Linked DNA regions of Homo sapiens: region 2 is linked to region 1. The links come from fine-mapping of genetic effects on plasma protein levels. Region 1 holds a variant in brackets. A gene starts in the other region. All regions are shown on one strand. Distances are from middle to middle.

The links. PIP is the posterior inclusion probability: the model's chance that the variant is causal. Protein levels are from antibody-based Olink assays in UK Biobank. Linkage for the fine-mapping came from a reference panel and not from the study's own genotypes, which makes the PIPs less certain.
Region 2: it holds the start of PODXL, and the variant in region 1 is fine-mapped to the plasma level of the PODXL protein (UK Biobank, PIP 0.91).

What each region holds. Positions count from the first base shown.
Region 1 is chr7:7,234,502-7,243,142 of GRCh38, forward strand. It overlaps C1GALT1 (core 1 synthase, glycoprotein-N-acetylgalactosamine 3-beta-galactosyltransferase 1), which reads left to right. Exons shown (of 4, transcript NM_020156.5): 2 at 1-38; 3 at 3,754-4,421. Among named protein-coding and RNA genes, the nearest start is that of LINC03016, 16 kb to the right of the region's middle. The variant G/T (reference allele first, on the strand shown) is at 452.
Region 2 is chr7:131,554,502-131,564,680 of GRCh38, forward strand. It overlaps PODXL (podocalyxin like), which reads right to left and starts at 2,127. Exons shown (of 9, transcript NM_001018111.3): 1 at 1,759-2,127. The coding sequence starts at 1,858. RefSeq lists silencers at 1,748-2,257, 2,338-2,397, 2,428-2,547 and an enhancer at 2,515-3,062.

The DNA.
Region 1 (8,641 bases):
ACAAATGAACTTCAATGCAGATTCTAGCCAACATAAAGGTATGGTTTACTTTATTAAGCAGTAAACATAAGCAGTATTTTAGTCTAAATTTTGTCATATTCCTGTCTGTATCTGTTAATTAAAATGGGCTATATATTCCAGATATTAAAAATAATTCTTGGTTTGCCTCAAGAGAAGGGAATTGCTAAAACTCAGATTTATTTAGGGAATAAGATATTAATTTTGAATTCGTTTTTAAGTAGAAATAGTTCAGAACCCATGATTTGGGGAAGGGCATAACTATTCAGATTTGATTTGTTTCTGAAAATGTTTTTCTAGGTTCAGTTTTGTTATATGTGTGTCTTTGGTTTTTGTTACTTGTTTTGGTCATAGCTTTTGCTTAAGTCTTGTTTTCCTAGAGAAACTTGAGGTGTATGTAAGTTTCGATTTATATTTTTATAATTAGTTAATA[G/T]AACTAATCTTTTTTTTCCTCAAGAGGCACAAAGAACAAGGAAGTTAAAAACCAAGGATGCGTTCTAAAGACTTCATTTTCTCCTAGCCTCCTACCTCTAACCAGATTTTCTCAGTTGAGTTATTTATGTGTCCCTTAAGTGTTGGTTCTCTCCAAGTTTCTGTCCTTTAGCTGTTTGTCTGTGTGACATCATTAACCCGCATAATTTTAATTTCCTTCTATTTCTTACTGTCTTTAGCCCAGTTCCAGACATTGTGAGGTGACATTAACACAATGCAAAATACGGTTTGACAGAAAATAATATAAGTAGCTTGAAAACAATTGGAATTCTGGGATGCAGAGGGTCCACTATTCAGTTTTTTCTCTTCTCTTCTCAGTAGTAAATTATTTCTTCACCACCTCTCAAGCAGAGGTTGAATGGTGAGATTTCAAAGCCTGGTTCCATTTTATCAACTAGCAAACATAAACATACTATTACAAAGTATGTCGTGTTTTGTGATTGTTTATGTAACAGTAATTCAGCTCTGAGCAAGTGCTCTGTGTTCCTACAGAACAGTTTGGTCACTGTGTATTTGCTCTGTAGCATAGCCACATGTCTTTAGGTGATCAATTGGAGGCAGAGTTCCCTACTAATAGTAAGCCGTACGAGGCCTCACTGCAGGCATGTGTATTAGATACATACTTGTCCAGCTCAGTGGCCTACAAAATGTGGGGTATGCTAAAAGTTTGTCTACTCCCTTCAGACTCAGCATGTGTAAATTGAGTCTCCTTTTCCTTCCTACTCCTAGAAGTTGCTCTTCCTCCTCTATTCTTTCTTTTATATGGCTCATTACCATCTGTCTGTGCCAGAAATTAAGAAATCATGGTAGGTGCTTGCCTTCACATGCTAGCCAATTCGATTTGTCAGTACATTCTAACAGTGCTGCTACTTTACCATTTTTCATCTCTTTTCCTCTCAGTCCTCAGTGCATTTCCGATTCAGGCCTTCAGCTATACCCATGTACCTGCACTCAACCAAACTTCACCATTCCTTTTGGTGAACTTATAACCTATTTTCTGTATTATGTCTTTATTTTTTAATCTTCCTCTTTGTTCTACCTAGGTCCCTATCTACTGCTCTGTAGGATTTATTAGCCACTATTTTCCTTCAGCACATTGAATCCTTTGTTCATACCTCTATAATAACATCTCTTAGTATTTAGCAATTATTGGTTTGTGTGTCAGGCTCAGGCTCCCTGAATGGACTGAATTCCTCTGCAGCAGGAAATGTGTCTTACTCATTTTTTTCATCTCCTATGCCAGCCCATGCCCAGTACAAAGCAATTAGTGAATGAAAAATTATTTATCAAGTTCAGCGGTGGACAAACCTGTCTTACCTGAATGAAACAGATTGGGGATTCCTGCATTCACTGTTCTATCCATTCAAGGTTTGGTATATTTGTATAGCCAAGAGATTGGGCTCCTCAAGGATATGAGATGTCTATGCTTTCTGACTGAAAGTAGGGTGATTTTGTCTGCTGTTGTCCTTTTGGATTGTGAATCTTGATACTCAGAGGGACATGAGAATTTTTATTTTTTATTTTTTTTGAGATGGAGTCTCGCTCTGTCACCCAGGCTGGACTGCAGTGGTGGGATCTCGGCTCACTGCAACCTCCGCCTCCCGGGTTCAAGCAATTCTCCTGCCTTAGCCTCCCGAGTAGCTGGGATTACAGGCGCCCACCACTACGCTTGGCTAATTTTTTGTATCTTTTTTAGTAGAGACAGGGTTTCACCATGTTGGCCAGGCTGGTCTCGAACTCCTGACCTCGTGATCTACCCGCCTCAGCCTCCCAAAGTGCTGGGATTACAGGCCTGAGCCACTGTGCCCAGCTGGGACATGAGAATATTTTTATGTTCCACCCAGCTTTTCCCATTATTCCCTCTCAGTTGGTTAACTAGTATATTATATGCCTCCATTGTTAATTTCTCATAGGACTAAGCTTCTGTAACTTGCTGTTTGACCTTAATTTTAAGCATATGCTTCGTCAGGATACTGCCCAGAACATTGCTACTGAAAGTCAGTTCATAGACTCATTCTGGTCCTATAACTAAAGAATGTCTGCTTATTTGGGAGTAAGCAGAAACTTTTATTGTAATTGGAGTAATTTTGTCTGAAGCTAAAAATAAAAATTTAGGACTTGTTTTATATTTTAGTTTTATTTTTCTTATAATTCATTTTTATCCTATTTACACAGTGTAGACCTCTTTTAGAAATAAAAATTGGCCTTTCACCACAGATAGCTTGGGAAGTACTCATCTAGAATCTCATCATTGAGCTCTTCCTCTGTACCGGTGCTACTCAAAATGCGGTCCTGGCCTGACACTTTGTCAGCTGTTTGTCTGCACAAGATAATGAGGTTACACTAGGATGTAAATCAGTTTTACGCTCACTGCTTACTTAAATGGACAGTTTTAAGTTTCAGTTTTAAGCTCACTGCTTAGTTAAGTGGACATTTTGATTGGTTGGTTCTGATAGTAGGCCTTTTTCAAAGTAATGTGTTGCTTTCTGTTCTGGTATAAGCTCCTTATTTCTTTGCAAACCTGTAGTTTAAAGAGCACTGCTCTAGACCATCTTGGAATTCCCATGTCTACCATTGTTCTCTTCTGTTTTTGATTGGTGGATTTACATTTTGGAATGAGGTATGTGACTATCAGAAAGTAATCTCAACTCCTGTGCTTTGACCTTTTACCACCTCAGGGTACTTGTAGAAATTCTTAATAGTGGATTATTGTGAACTTCAAAAATGAACTGCCACTTCAGCAGCATGTCTTTCCTGCTCTTCAGAAACTCGTTCAGAGCAGTGAGAAATTTCTGTCAGTAATCTATTAAAAACTGGCTGCTTTCTTTTATGAAGTGCCAAGCAGAGACTATTTAAGGCAGCATTTAGCATGCCTATGAAGCACCAGGAGAACTTATTAAAATGCTGATTCTGAGTCAGTAGGTCTGGGCCTAAGATTATGCATTTCTAACAGGCTCCCAGGTGATGCTGCTGCTTTTAATCAGTAAACTACAGTTTGAGACGAATTTAGATTATAATGTCAACTCTTACTAGCTCCAGTGATGTCCTAGATAACACTGACATGAAACCAATAAATCAGAGTGTCAGTTCACATTAGGATGAGTTTGCTTTCCTTTGGCTAAATCACTAATAGAGGGATAAATAGGGACTTTGAAATTAGGACAGTGCTTTCTTCAGTATAATTTATTAATATTTGGATTTTACATCTATGTAAATAACCTTTTAAAATGTTTTGTTTAATAGATGAGAACACAGACATTGCTGAAAACCTCTATCAGAAAGTTAGAATTCTTTGCTGGGTTATGACCGGCCCTCAAAACCTAGAGAAAAAGGCCAAACACGTCAAAGCTACTTGGGCCCAGCGTTGTAACAAAGTGTTGTTTATGAGTTCAGAAGAAAATAAAGACTTCCCTGCTGTGGGACTGAAAACCAAAGAAGGCAGAGATCAACTATACTGGAAAACAATTAAAGCTTTTCAGTATGTTCATGAACATTATTTAGAAGATGCTGATTGGTTTTTGAAAGCAGATGATGACACGTATGTCATACTAGACAATTTGAGGTGGCTTCTTTCAAAATACGACCCTGAAGAACCCATTTACTTTGGGAGAAGATTTAAGCCTTATGTAAAGCAGGGCTACATGAGTGGAGGAGCAGGATATGTACTAAGCAAAGAAGCCTTGAAAAGATTTGTTGATGCATTTAAAACAGACAAGTGTACACATAGTTCCTCCATTGAAGACTTAGCACTGGGGAGATGCATGGAAATTATGAATGTAGAAGCAGGAGATTCCAGAGATACCATTGGAAAAGAAACTTTTCATCCCTTTGTGCCAGAACACCATTTAATTAAAGGTTATCTACCTAGAACGTTTTGGTACTGGAATTACAACTATTATCCTCCTGTAGAGGTAAGTTTAGAAATTTTATTACTATGTCAATACTTGGACTGACTGAATTTTGTTGATAAAAACATGTTAATATGTGTATGTTTCTTTAGTACCAACAACAAGGACTCTTCCTTAGTCTTTTTAAATAGAGTGGCAGTATAACAAAATAGATGAGAACAGGGACATCAGCAATCAGCAGTAGTCACTTAGCAAATAGCTATTGATGCTGTTATATGCCAGGCACTGAGAATGTAGAAGTAAATCACAGCCAATTTCCAGTTCTCGTGAACCTTACATTCTGGATGAGGAGATATACAGTAAACAGGCAGACTTGTAAATATAAAATAGGATTTTAGTAGTAAGTGCCCTGAAGAAAAATAAGCCAAGTAAGGGGATGGAGAGTGACCCAGAGTGGGATGGAGTCCTCTGGTTTGGGTGATTAAGAAGGCCTCTCAAAGAGGTGACTTTTGAGCAGAACCCTGAGTGTTATTAGAGAGCAAGTTGGGTGAAGATCTGGGTAAAGAGCCTTCTAGTCATCAGGAGGATTTAATGGAGGTTCAGAAAGACCTAGAGTCAAATCCTGCTCTCTCACTTAATAGCCGAACAACCTTGGATGGACAGGAGCCTTGGATGACATCTGAGCTTCAGTTTCCTCATTTGTAAGATGGACATAATGTACCTGTCTTATTTAGTTGTTGTAATTACAACATAGTACAGCCCTTCACACAGTAAGCATTTAATAAGCCTTGGCTCACATTCCTGAGAATTTTATCTAAAGTGCATTATTTTAGGAAGTATTCCAGTAGTACAAATATTTCAGAATATACATTGTACTTATCCCCTGTCTTTACCAAATATTAATCTTTTTGCCACATTTGTTTCAGTTATTTAAAGAAGAAAATGCTATAGTATTGTTTTTCAGATTTTTAAATAAATATCTTTCTACAACTTGCCCTTTTCACACAACATTGAGATTTATCAATGTTAATTACATGTCTGCTGTGTTCACTATTATAAGCATTGCTTCAGTGAATAACTGAATGAGACCAGGAATCATGGAACCTAGCTTTTAGGCTCAGTTCTGTTACTAATAATGCCTTTAGGCAAGTCACTAGTTCTCTATGCCTTCTTTTCTGTGGACCTAACGTATAAATAATACACTTCATGCTACTACTGTCATCTTCATAAGGCAATGCTTTCAAATCATCATCTGGAACAGTGATTCTCAACCCAGGGCAATTTTGCCCCCAGAGGACATTTGGCAAGGTCTGGAGACATTTTTGGTTGTTACAGCTAGGAGGCTGCTACTGGCATCTAATGGGTAGAAACCCACTACATTATAAACCTACTAAATGCTAAACATCCTAAAATGCACAGGACAGCCTCCTACAACAAAGAATTACTCTAGCCCAAAATGTCAGTAGTACCATGGTTCAGAGACCCTGGCCTAGAACATCTGACCCAAGCTTTAGGTAATCAGCTTTAAAAGGAAACTTTTGATAGTCTGTTTTTCTATTTTAGTGAGAGTACTACTTTGGATGCTTTTTTGATGTAAACTTTTCTTAATATATTTTGACCATTCCAAGATGACTTGATCTTTTTTCCTTAATTCTGTATCCTTTTCCCATATAAAAAATTTACCCAAATTCAAGAATATAAACATGTAGCAAATACATCCAAATGCATATAAGATCTTACTAAGAGTATCTGATGTTGGATACACATACAGTAGTAGCAAAGGGACATCATAATTGGCAAATTTGTTCTTTCTCTAGAAATTTATCAAATTATGTTGAAGACCATAAAACAGAATTAGAATTCAGAGTACCAAAATTGACCCATCAATCTGACATTGCCTGTTCTCCCTCAGGAGATTCTTACATAAACCCAACGTGAAACTAAAATTCTATTATTATCCATCTATCATTTAGTAAGTTTTCTTCCCCCTAAATGAGTTTAAATCTTATACATACTTTTTTTTTCTATATACTAATTACTGAAAATACAGAAAATTTTTATCTAGCAAGTCAGGGTAAAAGATATTCTAATTCATGAAAGAGTTACATTCCTAAATTTCTTGTTCAGAACTGACTCTTAAGCAGTTCCCTTCCCACTCCACCTTCTTAGTAATAGACTTTTCACCAGAGAAGTTGCAGTGAGTCTTAATATGGTAGATTTAAAATATATGTGTAATTGTTTACATATATATCTCTCTACATGAAAAATTGACTTTTCTGTAGGTCAGAAATGGTCAAATATGATCTACTTTATTCAGTTTTATTTACATTATTCTATCTGAAACATATTAGTACATAAGTGAGGTAGAGAGCTCCTGATTTTTTTAAATTGTTAACTAATTATTCTACTACCATTTTTTAACTCATTACTGATTTAAAATGTCCCCCTTATCATACACTGTAACCTTACTTATAGTAGGATCTAAATCTGGGATTTCATTTCTATGCCATTGTTCTCATTTGATTTTGGCCCAGCACCATATTGTTTTGAACCTTGTAGCTTTACAGCAGTTTTAAGTTACTATTCTAAGGGCAAATTAACTCTTCTTTTTTTCTAAGTGTTTTGGCAACTCATTTCTTTATCTTTGCATACAAACTCATTAATTTAGGGACAATAACATCTTTGCCCAGGATTTTTTGTAAGTCACCTTTTAGGTCCTTTGGTCAAGTTTTATAAACTATTTCCATAGGTATGCAATATTTTTGTTACTGTTCTACTTGGGCTTTTAAAGACTTAACTTTTTACTGATATATATGAAAACTTATTTGTTTGATTTTCTTTTTAAGCATCTTTAAAATCTGGCTTTGTAACTGAATTCTCTATTTCTGATGATTCTTCACTTGAGATTCTTGAGTTTTTTTGGGTAACCATAATTGTCTGCTAGCTCTTGTTTTCTAATAATTATAGCTTTTTACTTTTATTGTCTTTTATTGCATAAATGCTTAACAGAATCCTGGCCATCCAGTAAAATATAAATAAATAAGAGCAATATAATTAATGCAGTAAATCTTATCAAAAATATTATTTTACAGAATATAAAAATTGCTTCCAGAGGTCAGCAATTTATAACTATTACTGGTCTAGTCCTTAAGTTTAATATGCACTGGACAGTATAGTAGCCACTAAGTATGTGTGGTTATTGAGCACTTGAAATGTGGCTAGTCCAAATTGAGATATGCTGTAAATAAAATACACACCTAATTTCAAGAAAGGTTTCATTAATCATCGCAAAACTATTGCATGTTAAAACAGTATGATGAACTTTTTCAGTTAAATAAAATGAAATTTCACTTTTTTTTTTTTTTTTTTACATTTTTTATGTGGCTACTATATGGCTTACATATCTGTTGGACAGAGCTAGTTTAGATAATCACAAGTTGACTTATCTGGTTATTTTTCCTATTTGCTTTTATTCTGATATTTCCTAAAGGTGCAAGAGTAGGTTGTCTAAGAATCTACATATCCAGTGTGTGTTTCAAAGGAAAGTTTAGAGATAACAGCAGAGAAAACGCAGTGGACAGTTTGATAATTTTTACACACTGTAAGCTACATACTTCCAAACATAAATTATTAGATTTATTAAATATTCAGTCAATATGAATCTTCTCTTGGAACTTGCCAGACTATCTCCCTCATTCTTTACAAAGATGTCAGATGGAGCCTGAAGTTTTGTTGGAGTCACCTGGATGACACCAACATTCTCCAGATACCAATTCTGACTCTAGGTTGACTGCTTAATTCATCTCTTTTTCTGTCTTCTTAATTTTCTTGCTTTCTTGTTCGTTGTATTGTTGTTGTTTTATTTTAAACTTTGTTCTCATACCAACCCTATTAGGAATTTATGAGAATTACATAACTGGACAAAGGTTTAAATCTGACCTACCTTAGGGCCACCTGATATGATTTTTCAGTCAATAATAGCTAACATTTATTGGGCATTTATTTTAAGCAAAGGGTAATTTACACACATTGTCTCCTTTAAATAACCACCTTTTACAAATGTGGAAATTAAAGCTTATAGAGATTAAATAACTTACTCAAGGTCGTATACTAGCCCACAAAATTTGGGTTCAAACCCAAGTCTAGGTTGAGAGCTTTGTCTCAAATACTGTACTGTTTGGGTTGATACATATATAGATGAAGTGTATTGGGTTGTAGACACCTAATGGGCAAGGCTTTGTAGTCATTGAATGCCCTAGAGGTATGTTTCCGAGTATGAGCCA
Region 2 (10,179 bases), 120 Mb after region 1:
TGTGTTAGGCCAGAAGTGGTGCTTCATGGAAGAGACATGGTTTCTGGCAGTGCCCAGGTGCCAGGAAAAACAGTGCCATCCTTGAAGCCAGCAGTGAGCTGGAGTCAGAGCTTTGCCCACTGGTGACTTATGAACATTTCCTTTTAGGGCAGACAGGGAGGGTCTTGTCCCACAGTGCCTCCCACTCCTCAAAGGAAGGGTGGCTCAGCTTCCTTAAGCTCAGAAGCACTAGGGACTAACCCCTCTTTCCTGACACAGCCCAACGCCCTTCTGGGTGGTTCTAAGAGGCTTCCCAACAAAAGGTTCGTATGAAGGCCCACCCTGAAGTCCAGCTGTCCCCAGAGTAGGGCTAAGGAGCCACCATACTCTCGTGTCATCTCAACCCTGCATGTCGTGTGGCTCTTCAGTGATTGCCACTCTGAAAGCTGTTCTGACTGTTCCTCACACTGCAGCCCCTCTTCCAGGGACACACATTCTTCCCCCCGCCGGGACCTTCCCTTTCTAGTCAGGCTGGTGGAGTCTCCCGCCGGCCACAGGAGGATGCCCACGCCTGCCTGCTCCCTGAGTGCCAGCGCCTGCCCACTACCAAAGGTTTCCTGCGGTGCAGAGGAGAGACTGTACTGCCCTTCCATCTCCCCTGGCCCCTTAGAGTCCAGTCCCAAACTGCCGGCACCTGCTCACAGCAGAATCCCTACCCTGTCTGTGCTGTCCCCGCAGTCCTCCTGGCCCTAGGGTGATCACACCACCTCAGCTCTTCCTGCAGACATGTGCTCAGGTGGGCAAAAGAGAATGAGAAATGCACCTCTCCCGTGGGGCTGAGCTGACTCTGGCTGTTCCCTAGGGGCTTAAGAACACCTGTTCTGGTTGAGTTTGCAGCCATCGCCTGTCCCCCAAAAGGGAAAGAGTAACATTTCACCTTGAAAAGAAACAGGGAGGGGATGTTTCTGAGGTGCAGGTGTTTCATGAGAGACAGGTACATTTTCTAAGGTGTGTCTAAAATGCAGCCCAATCCTATTCTACGAGAGAGAAGTTCCCGTTTGAACAAGTTCCCGTTTGAACAAGAGGATTCGAGGGGGGTCTCACCATCGTAGCCACGCACTAAGAAGCGATTGTTTTAGGGACACGGAGGTAGGACCCCCACTCAGCCAGGTGACTCTGGGACTGTGGAAGGTCCACTTACGACTCTGTACCTGCCCCAGCACGGGCTCAAGGAGTTGAGCCTGCACACATTACTTAGAAAAAACCTCTGCAAACGGGTAAGTACATCGCCCGCGTGGGCCGTGGCTGGAGGCTTGTCACCTGCTTCAGGGACTTCCTCGGGAGCCTCTCGCCTGCCTCTTTGCCTGGAATTAACGAATACACACTACAGCCCCTCATTCCCTCCAACACGAAGGAAAGGTGTAATCAGATCCCGAGAGTCCCGCAGAAGCGTGGAGCCTCGCGGTGCGGTCTCCCTTTTCTTTCCCATGCAAACCCACTTAGCACCGGCGCGCCCCTGTTTGCCCGGGCAGAATCCACCGCCCACTCCTCCCGAGTGGAGAGTGGAGACGAATCTACGCCCAGGCCCTGCACCTGCCGCGCTGCGGAGTTTGGAGGGGGCGTGGATGGTGCAAGGTCAGGGCTCCGTGTGTGACCCCGGCGGTGATAGGGCTGCTCGGGGTCGGACCACGCGGCGCGCCGGGCTTCCCTGCAGCTCGGCCGGGCAGGGGGCACATGGGCACGGTGGGAGTCCCGGCGGAACCCAGGCCGGCCACTCACCATTCTGGGAGGGCGACGGCGACGGCGACGGCGACGACGGCAGCAGCGGCGGCGTTGACAACAGTAGCAGCAGCGCCGAGAGCGCCAGCGCGCAGCGCATCGTGTCGTCGCCTCTGGGCCGGGAGCAGGTGGCTGCGGTGCCGGCGGAGGATCCGCGCGTCCGGGCGGTAGGAGCGTGGGCGCCGCCCGGGGAGGCCTGTGGGTGGCTCCGGAGGCCAGGCTGTGGCCCGGGGCTCCCGAGTCGCGCTGCGGCGGCTCTTCCTCCCTGCCGCTGCAGCAGAGCCGGGCTGGGGCGCAGAGCCAGTGGCAGAGGAGCGGCGGCGGCGGCGGCTGCGTCCTGGGCGGCGTCTGCGCGGCTGCGGCCCCACTGGCGGCTGCGGCTACTCCTGGCCCGTCCCGTCAGCGCCGGCCCCCGCCCCCGCCCCCGCCCCTCCCCCTCCCCCAGGAGCCCGCCAGCGGCGGCGGCCGGGCCGGGCGGGGCCGGGGCCGGGGCTGGGCGGGCGCTGGGCCGTGAACAATGAGCAGAGGAGGAAACTCCGCCCTGGAGCGCGACGGGCGGGAGGGCCGGCGGCCTCCGCGCCTTGGGGGGCTGTGTGTGCGCGGGGGCCAGGGCGGGGGGCTCCTGCGGTGCAGCCGGGCCCCGTCCACAGGTGTCCCGAACAGGTGTGTCCCCCCGAGTGCTTCTAAGTGGGCCCGGCGGGATCCCCCAGCACACCGCCGGGGCCCTCGCACTACGAGCAAATCCGGAGCGGGCGGACCCCCAGCCTTGCGTGGTAACTGATAACCATTCACGGCCTCCCGGGCTGCTGCGCGTTCTGCAGCGACCCCGGAGAAGCTCATCTCCCACCTGCCAAGTGCAATTCACCTGCCTGTGGGGCCCCCATCCCGCACGGCTTCTGAGCGGGGTCTCTCTGCAGCTAGGTGTGCAGCGGGCAAGCTGGACTAATTCACTCCTTCACCTCTCCAAGGGTAGGTTCCTTACCTGTGAAATGGAGATGATGGTTAAAAAACAACAGCAACAACAATTTCAGGGATGAATGTGTGCCAGGCTTTACATATATTAATTCTTTTACTCTTCATGACAACCATATTTTTAGCCTCATTTTGCAGACAGGGCAATTGAGTCAAAAAGAGGTTAAGAAACTTCCTGAGGCCACATAACGGGTAAGTGGCAAACCTGCCTCTGAGAGAAGTTTGGAGAAATACCGTGCACCGTGCCTGGAATATAGTAATTGCTCTGCAAGGAGTGGTTATTACTCTTATTCCTGCTATATAAAGAACAGCTATAAAGATTAGGGCTTTTGGGTCAAAACAGGCTGGGGCTCAAAACCTAACTGTGCCAATCTATTAATTGTAAAACCCTAGGCAAGCTATTCTCAGTACCTCATTTCTTTTTATCTGTAAAATAGGGATAATAACACCTACCTCAGGGGGTTGTTGGGAAACTTAAATGTGATCTTACAAGATAATACTTAGCCTAGGGCCAGGAACACAAAAGTCTCAATGAATGAAGTAGTTCGCCCTCCAAGTGAGGATCAGAGATATTTGCACACTGGGGGTGGGAGTGGGTGTTGGAGAATTCCGTAAACTGAGTTTATCCGGTGAAAGAACAAAGAAGTTCCTTTCCCCTCCCCCGCTCCCCTCCTTTTTTCCACCCCCAAAGCTGCCTGGGAGACGCAGACCCCAGGCCCGCCTGAAGAGGAGGCACATCGGCGGAGCCGGGAAGCGGAGGGGGCGAGGGGTGATTAACCTTGGAACCCGGGTACGGCGTAAATTTGGCTCACGTGACTCCGGGGTTGCTAATCTGGAGTCTATCTGCCAGATGGGGCTGGGTGGAGGGGTTTTCTCCAGGATCTAGCCGCGTCCCGGGCACAGGGGACTCCGTGAGCCCCTCAAGTCGGCTGCAAGCAGGCGATGCCTGCAGGGCACTGCGTCCCTGGAGCCGCGAAGGAAGCGCTGGAGCCCTGGCTGGGGTTCCGTGGCAGCCGGCCTCAAGCTTGGGAAGGGCTGACGGGGTTGTTTTCATCAGGAAGTTTCTGCAGGATCGTTCTGGCCCCGTTTTCCACACCGCATATGGGAAAGACAGAGGGTGTTCCCTATGAATACTCTGGGATATTTGTGTGTGTGACTATCTTTGATGTTTTTTTAGTACTGTTCCCCTGATATCATGTCAACAAAAGGCTTGTTTCTCTTCTGAAACCAAGCAATATATATATATATTTTTTTTTACACTGGGATTTTAAAAAATGTGTATCGCACTCTGATTTAAACAGTGTTTTTGCACTCAATCATTCAATTTATCTAAAAACTCAGAAGCAATCATGTTAACTTTATAAAGAGAGAGCGTATATTTTGAAGCTTAGGGCATTTTAAATTCACATGATTTGGGATTGGTGCCATTACAAGATCATGCAAAATTAAAATGAGAGCAGACATCTGGGCTTAGAGAAGACATAGAAAAGTTACAATTGTGCTGGACTCTCCCCAGTATCCAACAGCCCCCCTCAACTTATGCACAACGTGGCTTTCTGGAATGAGGCTGGCTGGGTTTTGAGGTCACTGGTGGCCACTGAGATGAGCTACCCCCAGGTAACTGGCCTGTGCCTTTGGCCCCATTTAGCATTGTGCTCTAACTAGCAAGCTCGCCAGCCCAGAACACCTGAGCTTATATTTGAAACCCAAAGCACTTTATGGGTGCTGTTTTTGAAGCTTTTCATCAGGAAGTTTCTGCAGGATCATTCCTTCTGGGATTTGTTGCATTTTGGTTATTTGTATACATGCGTTAGCTCTCCTAGCAGACATTCAGCTTCTTTAACATGGCGTCTTTCTTATTCATCCTTTACTTACTCAGACCACCAAGAACAGCACATCACTTTTTTTTTTTTTTTTTTTTTTTTGAGACAGAGTCTTGCTCCTGTTGCCCAGGCTGCCTCCGCCTCCCAGGTTCAAGCAATTCTCCTGCCTCAGCCTCCTAAGTAGCTAGGATTACAGGCATCTGCCACCACACCCGGCTAATTTTGTATTTTTAGTAGAGACGGGGTTTCTCCATGTTGGTCAGGCTGGTCTCGAACTCCCGACCTCAGGTGATCTGCCCGCCTCGGCCTCCCAAAGTGCTGGGATTACTGGCGAGAGCCACCGCATTTTTATCAAGCAAATGGTTTTGCTGCCCCATGGGCACAGAAGCCAATACTATGAAGCACTAGCTTTGGAAAAAGCAGCGGCTTTATTTGCAAAACTGGTCAGCAAAGAGACAGGAGTGAATTCAAATCTGTCTCCCCAGCCAGGCACGGTGACTCATGCCTGTAATCCCACAACTTTGGGAGGCTGAGGTGGGCAGATCACCTGAAGTCAGGAGTTTGAGACCAGCCTGGCCAACATGGTGAAACCCCATCTCTACTAAAAATACAAAAATTAGCCAGGCTTGGTGGCATGCGTCTGTAATCCTAGCTACTCAGGAGGCTGAGGCAGGAGAATTGCTTGAACCTGGGAGGTGTAGGCTGCAGTGAGCTGAGATTGCACCACTGCACTGCAGCCTGGGCAACAGAGCAAGACTCCATCTCAAAAAAAAAAAAAAGAAAAAATGTCTCCCCAGTTTGAGGCCTGGGGTAAATTTATGGGATCAGAAGGCAATGAAAAGATTTAGGAATGTTGGCTTGGCAGAATCTGATTGGAGGGCTTTAAATTTGACCATTTACAGAAAGGTATGTTGAGGCGGACTTTTAGCCCCACATCTTCCAAGCCATTGTACGTCTGGCTTCTGAGAGAGTTCTGGCATTCGGATTCCCATCAAGTCTCTTAGTCTTTTTAGTTCCAAGGGAGAATTCATTGTTTTGGGGTTGTTGTTAGAGTTCCAACTATTTTCTATTGCTTATGCTGGAGCAACGTGACATTTTGTTATCAACAGAGCAAGCCCAGTTTGGGCCTTTCCCTCAGTTACAACATCATACATATAGATACAGATACAGATCTATAGATACAGATCTTGAATGCAAATATGAATGTCACCTGGAAGATATTACGCAGGAACCCATGGCACAAGGTTACACATTTTTCCATGGCCCCTGGCTGTCAATGTTAGGGGCCATAATTCTCTGCCCCAGGTGCAATTTGGTGATGTTGTTTACCTAAGTGCATCCTTATGTGCAGACTCAGTAAGTCCTCTTGACCCTCATTCTAAGTAATACTGATCCCCAGTCACAACATCTAGGGGTGAGACAAAGCGTCCGCTACCACATCCCCCAAGAAAAGATGAGTGCACACATGTATCCATCCTGGAGCCACAGCTCCTACACATAAGGAGCCAGGGATGCTCTTACCTGGGCTTTCTAATCACTGACCTCTGAGTTCCTTGTGGGTCGAAGCAGTGTTTAATTCATCTTGGAATCCAGTGCCCAGTATGGTGGTGTCTGACCCCAAACAGGTGCATGACATTCAAATGCTGCATAGATGAAGAAGTGGTTGGATTTTCTCTCCAAGGTTGGGTTACCCCTGACTGCCAAGTGGTGCGGTTCTATGAATATCAGCTGGGACTCAAGTTGGGCAGCTCACCCCAAAGTCATGCCTTTATGTATTATTATTCAATAATATCTACCCTAATAGGCAGAGTGTGCTAGGTTCGGTGCACTGTGCTGAGAATGCAACCCTGTACACAAACATGACTAACATGTAGTAGGGGCTGTAACACATGGCACGGGTGGGCATGTGGGAAGCGGAGAGCAGGATGGCTCAGCCCCACCCGGGGAGGTCAAGGAAGGCTCCAGAGGAGGGAACTGGGTTTTGGAGGAGTTGAAGGACTTCACCAAGGGAAGAGTGAAAGGGAAGGCTTTTTGGGCAGATGGAACAAGATCTACAGGTATTTCGCCCTCAGCAGAGCATAGGATTTGTCAGGATGATGGGAGATGAGGATTGGAAGGTGGGTAAAGGTGAGACGCTTAGACAATGAAGAGTCACTACAGGGTTTTAGCTTGAACGGGCAAGACCAGCTTTTCTTTTTTTTTTTTGTTTTTTTTTCTGAGACAGAGCCTTGCTTTGTCAACCAGGCTGGAGTGCAGTGGCGCGATCTCGGCTCACTGCAACCTCCACCTCCCAGGTTCAAGCAATTCTCCTGTCTCAGCCTCCCGAGTAGCTGGGATCACCGGCGCATGCCACCAAGCCTGGCTAATTTTTTTTTGTATTTTTAGCAGAGATGGGGTTTCGCCATGTAGGCCAGGCTGGTCTTGAACTCCTGACCTCATGATCTGCCCGCCTCAGCTTCCCAAAGTGCTGGGATTACAGGTGTGAGCCACCGTGCCTGGCCCCAAGACCAGCTTTTCATGAGAGAAAGCCGCAGTGGGCTTAGCAAGGGCAGGCTGATGTGAGGCGGAAGGTGAGCACAGCATTTGGGGAGGCTAGTGCAACTGTCCCTAAAGGGCCTGCCCTCAGACAGTGGTGGTGGGAAAGAAGAGAAGGGCCTGATGCAAGAGGTGTCTGAGGGGTAGCATTGATACAGGACTCAGTGGCCCATTGGATGGGGACATGGTGTGTGGGCTGGTGTGTGTGGTGTGTTGAGGGCAGAAAGACACGGCAGGACTGCATGAATTATCTGAGTGCCATGGTTGGAGGGAGAGTAAATGAAACAAACTGTGATGGAGAATATAAGAAGAGAAGCAAATGTGGGAGAAGAAAATGATGGGTCCAGTTTCAAACAGGTTGACTCTGAAGACCCATGACCACATCTCAAAGTTATATCCAAGACAAGACTCAGGGGCTATGTCTAGAAGTTCTTTCCTTCCCCCCCGCCCCCCAATAAATAGAGATGGGGTCTTGCTGTGTTACCCAGGCTGCTCTCAAACTCCTGGCCTCATGTGATCCTCCCAGCTTGACCTCTCAAAGTGCTAAGATTACAGATGTGAGCCACCACACCCACCCTAGAAGTTTTATCTGTGACAGTAAAGCTCAGACCTAAAGTCAGGACTGGAAATGGAGATCCGAGAACCATAACCAAGCAGATGGGGTTGTAGCCATGACTGTAGATGATGGGCCAGGAATATTCTGCAGTGGAGAAGAGAAGAGGCTGAAGGCAGAGCCCTTCAAAATATCAACATTAAGGAATGGGCATAGGAAGAGGATATGGAGAATGTATTGCTGAATAGAAAGTCAACCAAAAGAGAAGGGACCCATAGAAACGGAGGGAGGAGAATGTTTTAATAAGAACAAGGTGGTCAAAAGTGTCACCTGCTCCAAGGACTGAAATCTACCAGCTGAAGTTTACAATGAAAGGGTCCTTGGGGATCTTACCCAGGGTGATTTTAGTGAAGTGCAGTAACTGAAGGGAGAGAATGGAGATGAGGAAATGGAGGCAGCGAGTGTGGATGGGAAGGGAAGGAGGGAGAACATGGAGTCAAGGGAAGAGTTTGTGTGCATTGGTTCATTTAAAAATTGGAAATGTGTAGGCCGGGCGTGGTGGCTCATGGCTGTAATCCCAGCACTTTGGGAGACTGAGGTGGGCAGATCGTTTGAGCCCAGGAGTTCGAGACCAGCCTGGCCAATGTGGTGAAACTTCATCTCTGCACAAAATGTAAAAATTAGCCAGGTGTGGTGGCACATGCCTGTAGTCCCAGCTATTCAGGAGGCTGAGATGAGAGGATCGCTTGAGCCTGGGAGGCAGAGGTTGCAGTGAACCAAGATCGTGCCACCTCCACCTGGGTTACAGAGTGAGACCCTGTCTCAAAAAATAAAATTAAATTTAAAAAAATTGGAAATGTGTACATGACTGTGGGCCAAGAGGAAGACAATAATTGAAAGGGAGAAGTTACAAGAGATGGGGTGAGAAGCAGAGATAGAAGGACTAATCTCAGGCCAAGGGAACTTCGTCACTGAAGGTATGGATGGAGATGCAGTTTGTCATGGTTGATAGGAATAGCCTTGGAATGAGTCAGCCCAGAACTTCATCTTTGCTTTGTGACTTAGTAGCCATGTGATTTTGAGCTTTTACTTAACTTCTGTGAGCCCGAGTCTTCCCCTCTATGAAATAAGTAACATCAATTTTGCAGAATCTCTGTGAGAATTTGTGTGTGGGGGGGATGCACAATGCCTAGCTGGTGCACAATAAATACATTTAAAAAGTAAAACTTTGTGTCCACAGCAGAGCTCCAAGGCCCATGTGATTCCTGCTGCATTCACTCCGGTGAGGAGCCTGCTCTTCAGCAGGCGTTTTTCTTTTGGACGCTCTTCGCCGTGGGTTGGAAGAGCAGGTCATGCCCTGGCGCAGCAGGAAGAGAGGGTTTTCCACAATGGCTGCATCCATTGCAGGCCAGAGCTGTGGGTTGCAAAATTGGGGTTGTCCCTCCTGCTCGGATGTAATGGAGTTACCTGAACGTGGGCCCTTGGGACCAGGCCTAGCACCTAAGAGAGAGCTGAAGGCTCAGCAGATGTTAGAGAGCACTTGACCCAATGTGGGAAGAAAGCAGAGTCCTAGAGAGTGGAGGTGAAGTCCTCATTCACTCAACTCGTCAACAGCGCAGGTTCCAGAACCAGCTTAGAACTCTAGCTCCTGTTCTAACAGCCCATTGCATGCATCTGTGTCCCACAGCTGTTGGTCTTACAACTCAAAAAAGCACAGGTCCCCTGGCAGGTGCAAAAGAAAATGTGCCATGGAGATGAAACTGGGGGAGGGAGTTACGAGTCAATTACTACTTATGTTGAACTAAAAGAAGCCCAAGGCATCAGCTTCGGCTCAGTCTTCTCCATACACCCCAAGCTGCTTTCCATTCTCACTCAGCCCCTGACTATTCCTCCCATTCCCCTGCCCAGTACAATAAAAACAGCATGCAGTTAGCTTCCTCCACCCCGGAGGCTGACCAGGACCAGAATCAGCACTTGGATAGTACTGCATGGAATTTTGCCTGTATTCTGGGCATGGTGCTGAACGCTTTACATTCCTAACATAATTTAATCTTCATACATCTGGAAAGGTAAATATATTACCATGATCCCATTTTACAGATGAGCAGATGAAAACCTTATTTCCCTAGGATAACCCGAAGATAGAAATGTGTATTACTCTGTTTTCACATTTGCTAGAAGAAAAACTTCAGGCTGGGCGTGGTGGCTCACGCCTGTAATCCCAGCACTCTGGGAGACCGAGATGGGCAGATCACTTGAGGTCAGGAGTTCAAGACCAGCCTGGCCAATATGGTGAAACACCATCTCTACTAAAAAATACAAAAATTAGCTGGGCGTGGTGGCAGGTGCCTGTAGTCCCAGCTACTGAGGAGGCTGAGGCAGGAGAATCGCTTGAACCCAGGAGGCAGAGGTTGCAGTGAGCCGAGATCACACCACTGCACTCCAGCCTGGGTGACAGGGTGAGACTCCATCTCAAAAAAAAAAAATATATATATATATATATGTATATAGATAGATAGATAGATAGATAGATAGATA